Homo sapiens: one gene and its partner. The protein of the gene in region 1 interacts with the protein of each later gene in a biochemical or structural test. Each region holds a gene or a part of one and is shown in the gene's direction. Other genes may lie near its edges.

Region 1 (3,650 bases):
CAAAAAATGAAATAATTTTTTTTTAGAAAAAGAAAGTAAATATTTCATTAATATAAATTATAATACACTGTAAAATGCCTGGAGGACAAGAAACACGTTTTCTCTAGGTTCTGTGAAAGCATCATTATCCATTCACATTTTTCTCATAATTAGAACCTGACGTTCTGGAAAAATACAGTAAATTTTCATCGATGTTACTTGCTCTGCCCCCCTTGTATTCCTCCCATTAATAATATTAATCCTGAAAAGAAAAAAAGAAAAAGGAAAGAAACCACCCAAGCAAAATGTTTAAGAAATACGGTAAGGACAGTTTGGTCCCAATTTCCTTAAAAATTAGAGCCACCAAGTAAACCTGTTTGGGGGTCCTCACATCTGTCCTCTTTTGGAGTTTGCTAAGTAGTACAGTTGAAGTGAATTTTTTGGTAACAAAAGTAAAAACTTCCAGAATAACTCCAGTAAAGGGTGTTGATGTGACGTACAAGTTTGGAAATATATTTAATATCTGAGACTCCTCAATGTTGGTGTTATTTCCTCCAGTTTAGAACAAACTTAATCTTTTGATGAAAATCATAGAGTTCCATAGATATGAATAGAATCTCCAACCAGTGCATCTTGAAGCCGGCTGCCACGGCCACTCATGCACCTTCTCTCCTTTCAGGAGAGAATTGTCAGCATCTCTGCTCAAAACAATCTTTACTTTTAGTCCATCAGAGACTTCATGTTTGTCGTGCATGCACACTCACACCTCTCCACACATATGCCCACTCCCCACACACATCCTGCTTCTGAGAAATGCAACTAGAATTTCCTCCGGAGAAGAGATGGAAACCCCTGATTGAGAAATTTAAGGCCTAGGAAAGGTAAATGACTTTTCTTAAGTCACATGGCTCACCACAGAACCAAAGCTGGAACACACATACCCTCAGCTCTTCTTCCAGTGCTTTCAGGTATACAAGTATTTGAACAGGATTCAAGGTTTAACTCCTTATGTGTCATTCAGTGTATCCAGTGTAAGTAAAATGTTACCCCTTAGTCAGAACAGCCTTGAGAATTTCTCAATGACTACAAACCTTGCTTAGTTCTATACAAGGGAAGTAAAAGAGAGAGAATGTCATGACCAAATGACTTAACTTTTGAAGGCAGCCTATTGCAAACTTGAATAATTGGGGCATGTATTTTATTGATTGTTTGACCTATAAGGACAGATATTTTAAAATATAAATTCAAAATTGCTTTTTTGCAGCATTCACCTGTAGGCCTTCTATATCTGCTCTTTGTGAAATAGATGGCTTCCAGAGCATTAAAAAAAGAAATAGACATTTTCTTGGTTCAAGAGCTGTAATCTGCTTTCCGAGTGATTTTTCATAGTTAAGCATATTTTATGTGCACATAGTTTCATTTGAGATCTGAGAGGATTTCATCTAAAACGGAAAAGTTATTACCTGTGAAGGAGAACAAAGGAAAAGGAAAAAGAAATTTTAAGAAAAAAAAATTTTTTTAAACCTGTAGTTACTTTATGTTCAAGTGGGTATTTTCAACGCTGAGTTGCTGAAATGGTTTTTTATTGAAAGAAGGTTAAAAGTGTATTTCATTGAAAGCCAAGATAAACAGTAGATTTTGTATCATTTTAAAAATCAACAATCGGCCGGGTGTGGTGGCTCATGCCTGTAATCCCAGCCCTTTGGGAGGCCAAGGCAGGCAGATCACTTGAGGCCAGGAGTTCAAGACCAGCCTGGCCAACATGGTGAAACCCCATCTCTACTAAAAATACAAAAATCAGCTGGGTGTGGCAGTGCATGCCAGTAATCCCAGCTACCCAGGAGGCTGAGGCACAAGAATTGCTTGAACCTGGGAGGTGGAGGTTGCAGTGAGCCCTGATTGTGCCACTGTAATTCAGTCTGGGCGCAGAGTGAGACTCTGTCTCAAAAACAAACAAACAAATAATATAAAAATCAACAATGAAGACTCCCCAAACAAAAGAAATCAGGATTCTTAGCCAGTCATAGGTAAAGTGTTACAGTGTAAATTGAAGGGAAAGAAGACCAAAATTGGTGAAATATGTTTGGTCCCAGAAGATAATTAAGATGAATAAAAGAACTTGAGAGTATTTTCTCATTATTAAGCATCTTCAGCTTTAAAGATTTTAGTTAGCAAAGCAAGTTTACATAAACAGTTTTCTGAACCTGGGATGGCATTCACTGTGAGTTAGAAATCTCCAAGTCATCCACGTTTTCCCTGTTTTATTTGCAGCCATTCGTTATCTATGACATGAATTCCTTAATGATGGGAGAAGATAAAATCAAGTTCAAACACATCACCCCCCTGCAGGAGCAGAGCAAAGAGGTGGCCATCCGCATCTTTCAGGGCTGCCAGTTTCGCTCCGTGGAGGCTGTGCAGGAGATCACAGAGTATGCCAAAAGCATTCCTGGTTTTGTAAATCTTGACTTGAACGACCAAGTAACTCTCCTCAAATATGGAGTCCACGAGATCATTTACACAATGCTGGCCTCCTTGATGAATAAAGATGGGGTTCTCATATCCGAGGGCCAAGGCTTCATGACAAGGGAGTTTCTAAAGAGCCTGCGAAAGCCTTTTGGTGACTTTATGGAGCCCAAGTTTGAGTTTGCTGTGAAGTTCAATGCACTGGAATTAGATGACAGCGACTTGGCAATATTTATTGCTGTCATTATTCTCAGTGGAGGTAAGATTTGTCTTTTGATCTTCTATGAAAGAGGGTGGGATGATGGTGGGGTGGCCAAAAGAATTTTGGATTTCCTTAGTGTTAGTCTGCATTGTCACTTTAAGTGCCAGTGGCATGATGCCATGAATCATCACTACACGTGCAAAACACTGTACCAAGAAAGAGTGTCATAGGTTTGCGGTGTGAAGGTTATAAGTAACCCAGGATCTTCTCTTTCATCCCTCAACAATATATTTTTTCCAGTCAAATGCCCTCTTCTCCTTTTTCTTTTTCTTTTCTTTTCTTTGTCTCTTTCTTTTCCTTCCAGAAAGGAAGATTAGAGGCCAGTCTAATCTTTGGTTCCTGTAAGTAATGGCATGTATAACTTTGCTTAAGACAATGCTCACTTGATGTAGAGAAGGGACCACTAAGTATTTCTGGTCAAATCATGCTCCTGCCCCACCATCAGTAAGATACTACTTTGAATTGCTTTTGTGATATCAGGAATTAAGGAATACCTACTGACCTCCACCCACTCTCTTGTGTGGATTCCTCTGATGGCTTCCCTTAAAGTACCTTTGTGAGGTAGTTGGTTGTGATTAAGAATGCAATGTGAACCGAACACACAACATAGAAATAAATTTAGTTATTTAGCAATTTGTTGTATTTTTGGCCCTGCAAGTAGTACATGATCTGACTAACCAATTCCAAAAGCCAGATTTTCTTCTGAGTGTGACTTTTTTCTTTTTTTTTTCTTTTTTTTTTTTCCTTTTTTTTTTTTTTTTTTTTTTTGTGAGACAGGGCCTCACTCTGTCACCCAGACTGAAGTGCAGTTGCACAGTCATAGCTCACTGCAGCTTCTAACTGCAGTTAGTAAGCTATGATCATGCTACTTCATAAAAGTAATACGTGGCCATTTTACAGTTGGGCTCAAGTGATTCTCCCACCTCAGCCTCCCAAGTAGACAGGA
Region 2 (3,750 bases), on another chromosome or scaffold:
AACAATATGAGGAACGCTGCGGGTTACTGGGCCTGTGTGGACCCGTTTTGGATTCTAAGCTGGGTCCTGGGCAGAAGTTGGAGGCTGGGGCAGCTGCAAGCAGGACAGGCAGGTGGCCAGAGGGCCCAGCAGCTTCAGCACTGAGGACTGGACTGGGTCGCCACGCCCAAAGGAAGGATAATTACTCACCTCCCACTCAAGAAGCAGGCGGCAGAACTGTTTTGGAGAGCATGGCTTGGGGCCTGGGACCTATGTTCATGCGGTCCAGACGGAGATCCATGAGAGTTAAGACTCTTTCTAGATATCAGGTAGCACTTCTGATTACAAAACTTTTGCACATGGTCTCCTCTCTGCTTTACAACAGCTCAGGAAAGTAGGCCCAAACATCCACTTTAATAGATGAGGGAGCTCAGAGGGGGTAACCAACCCCTCCAGGTCACACAGCCAGGGAGGGGGTTGAGCCAAGGTTCAAACCACTGCCTCGGTTGTTGCAGATACATCCCTGCAGACACCTTTATTGAAGAGGGACCCTGAAGGCTGAACGGCCAACACAGAAGAGGAGGCACTTGGGAGTAAGGGTGATTTATGGCCCTGGGAGGGCCCAGTGCAGGTAGGATGGGAGCTAAGGTAAGGCTGGGCCATGCCTAGCTGCAAGCAAATTTCCTTAAAAAACAAACAACAAAAAACATTACTTTTTCTAAACCTAAAGTTTGTGGTGGCATTCAAGTCCCATCATAGCCCATCTATCCAGACTCATCTGCCTGGGATCCCCGTCTTGGGACTAGTGGTCACTGGCCTGCTTCCTGGTCAATTAGCTTCCGGGACTAGGGGGAGGTGTGAGGAGCCTAGAGTGCAAAATTTAAGAAGCACTCAGTCTCAGGGGCGTGCAGGTGCAGGGTAGCGACGGCAGGACTCTAAGAGTGAGTCTCTTTCCTCCCCGTTTCCCCGTCCTACTTTCACTCTAAGCATTTAGTTCCCAGGGGACAGAGACGACTTCTTCATTAGAAGACCCCGGGGGGTCCCCAGCCCGGAAGGGCTCACAGTTGGAGCTCAAACATTTGCCACTGTTCAGGCTCATCTTTCTTTCCCCAGTGAAAAATGGTCTAGGTTGGGAAGGGCAGGTTCCTGTCTACTGCGTGATCCAACCGATTCTGGTTCGCCCAATGTCTGGACTTGTCCTTTGCCAAGAATAAGCAGATGAGATGGGCGGATGAACCCCAATGTCCCTGCAAGATTCAGGAAGTCCCAGCCAGAAAGTAAAGGACGTTTAGTTCCATGTATTGTTTTCTTTTTTACATGCGGGGCAACACACCTGGACAGTGTCGATGGCTTGCTCCAAGCCACACGGCCGCATAGGGACAGGGACTGGGCTACATAACAAGTTCTTCGACGCTGTGATCTAATCAAGGAAAACCTGGGACGCAGCTAATAGATGCGCATCGAGTGTATCGACGCTCTAAGTACGAGGGCTGGAACAGTGAGCAGGATCAGTCCATTGCTTTTGCCTACCTGCTGAGCGCTGATTGGTCCCCGTTTAGGAAACGGAAAAAGGGGCGTGCACGCGGGCGCGGCTGCGTGAGAGGCGCGCGGCGGCGCAGTGAACAGTCTCCTTCCACAAAACCATGGCGTCGCTCAAATGTAGCACCGTCGTCTGCGTGATCTGCTTGGAGAAGCCCAAATACCGCTGTCCAGCCTGCCGCGTGCCCTAGTGAGCGGGGAGGTCGCGGGGTCCAGGGGCGCGGGTGTCCGGCCATGGCGGGAGGGCGGGAGGCCGGGAGGCCGGGCGGGAGCGGGCGGGCTGCTGGAGGGGCCGGGGACCCTCGGGGCTGACGCGGCCTGTGGCCTCTGTTGTTACAGCTGCTCGGTAGTCTGCTTCCGGAAGCACAAAGGTGAGCCCCGTCCCCGCCAGCCCTCGTACCACTGCGCACGGGGCAGCCCCCACGTCCAGCCTCCGTCTTGGGGGCGTGGACCCTTGGGCTGCGCTTCCTTTCCCGCCTCGGGTCTCCGCGGGTTCTGCAGGAACCTTGCTTCCTCTGACTTGGTCCCTGGTGTCTCTGTGTGTCGGACAGTTCCCTCTGTTGTCCCTGCCTGTAATCGCTCTCAGGGTTTTGGTCAGTAGCCTTTCTTCTACCCCGCTTCTCCTTCTGCGTGTTACTCTTTTTTGCTTAGAAATAGTTTCCGATTGCTTTTCCCACCGAGGTCTACCCTAGCAGTTTCTTCCTCAGTATTCTGATGTAGCCCCTCACCATTTGGCTGAAACTGCGCTAACTTTAACAGTATTTTCACTCGTGTAAATAATGTCTTGTTAGAAACAAAGAGGTAAGTCCATGTACAATACAAGGAGACGTCCTTGATTTGTTAAGAGAAAAAAAGAACCAAGTAAGTTCTGTGTATGATGTGAACACACTTTTGTACAGTTAAAAAGAAGTGACCTGGCCGGGCGCGGTGGCTCACGCCTGTGGTCCCGGCACTTTGAGAGGCCAAGGCGGGTGGATCACCTGAGCCCAGGAGTTCGAGACCAGCCTGGCCAACATGGTGAAACTCCGTCTCTACTAAAAATACAAAAATTAGGCGGGCGAGGTGCGCGCCTGTAATCCCAGCTACTCAGGAGGCTGAGGCAGGAGAATCGCTTGAACCCGGGAGGCGGAGGTTGTAGTGAGCCGAAATCGCACCACTGCACTCCAGCCTGGGCTACAGAGCCAGACTCAGTCTGGAAAAAAAAAGAAAAAAAAAAGTTTGATGTAGGTGGGGCGCGGTGGGTCACGCCTGTAATCCCAGCACTTTGGGAGGCCGAGGCGGGCGGATCATTTGAGCTCAGGAGTTTGAGACCAGCCTGGGCAACATAGCGAAACCCCGTCTCTATAAACAAACAAAGCCAGGCGTGGTGGCCTGTGCCAGTGGTCCCAGCTACTCAGGAAGCAGAGGTGGGAAGATCGCTTGAGCCTGGGAGGAGGAGGTTGCAGTGAGCCAGGATCGTACCACTGCACTCCAGCCTGGGAGACAGCAAGACTGTCTCAAAAAAAAAAAAAAAAAAAGCTTGATGTAGATTCTTTCAGCTTATTTCCACTCTTGTACCAATATATAGAACTTTTTTTTTTAGCTTTTAGAATCTCAGCAATGAGACTGTACCCAACATCCTCATTTGAGTTTATATATTGGGCACTTTTTAAAACCTAGTGCATACAGGCTGGGCGCAGTGGCTCATGCCTGTAATCCCAGCACTTTGGGATGCCAAGGTGGGTGGATCACCTGAGGTCAGGAGTTCGAGACCAGCCTGGCCAACATTATGAAACCACATCTCTACTAAAAATACAAAAATAAGCTGGGTGTGGAGGTGCGCGCCTGTAATCCCAGCTACTTAGGAGGCTGAGGCAGGATAATTGCTTGAACCATGGAGACGCAGGTTGCAGTGAGCCAAGACTGCACCACTGCACTCCAGCCTGGGCAACAGAGTGAGACTCCATCTAAAAAAAAATTAAAAAAATTAAAAATAAAGACTAGTGCATACAAGTTCTAGCTCACTGACTTAAAGGACTGTATGTTATTTCATTATATAGTTGGTACGACCATTATTTATATAAAGCCTCCTATTGGTTGATTTTTCTTTTTAATATTTGTTTTTAATTGACACATAATTGCATACAATTTGAGTTACAGTGTGATACTTCGATACCTGTATACAATGTTTAAGGATCAAATTAGGGTAATTAGCATATTCGCCCCAAATAATCATTTCTTCATGTTGGGAAC

The links. Proteins that work in one complex are often made in the same cells at the same time.
Region 2: the proteins of PPARG (region 1) and ZNHIT3 form a complex in vitro, tested with the Homo sapiens proteins (one study listed by BioGRID).

What each region holds. Positions count from the first base shown.
Region 1 is NC_000003.12:12,414,454-12,418,103, forward strand, and holds part of PPARG (peroxisome proliferator-activated receptor gamma), read left to right. Parts: intron 1-2,250; coding exon 2,251-2,701; intron 2,702-3,650. UniProt on the Homo sapiens protein: Nuclear receptor that binds peroxisome proliferators such as hypolipidemic drugs and fatty acids.
Region 2 is NC_000017.11:36,485,078-36,488,827, forward strand, and holds the start of ZNHIT3 (zinc finger HIT domain-containing protein 3), read left to right. Parts: upstream 1-1,603; 5' UTR 1,604-1,622; coding exon 1,623-1,708; intron 1,709-1,857; coding exon 1,858-1,889; intron 1,890-3,750.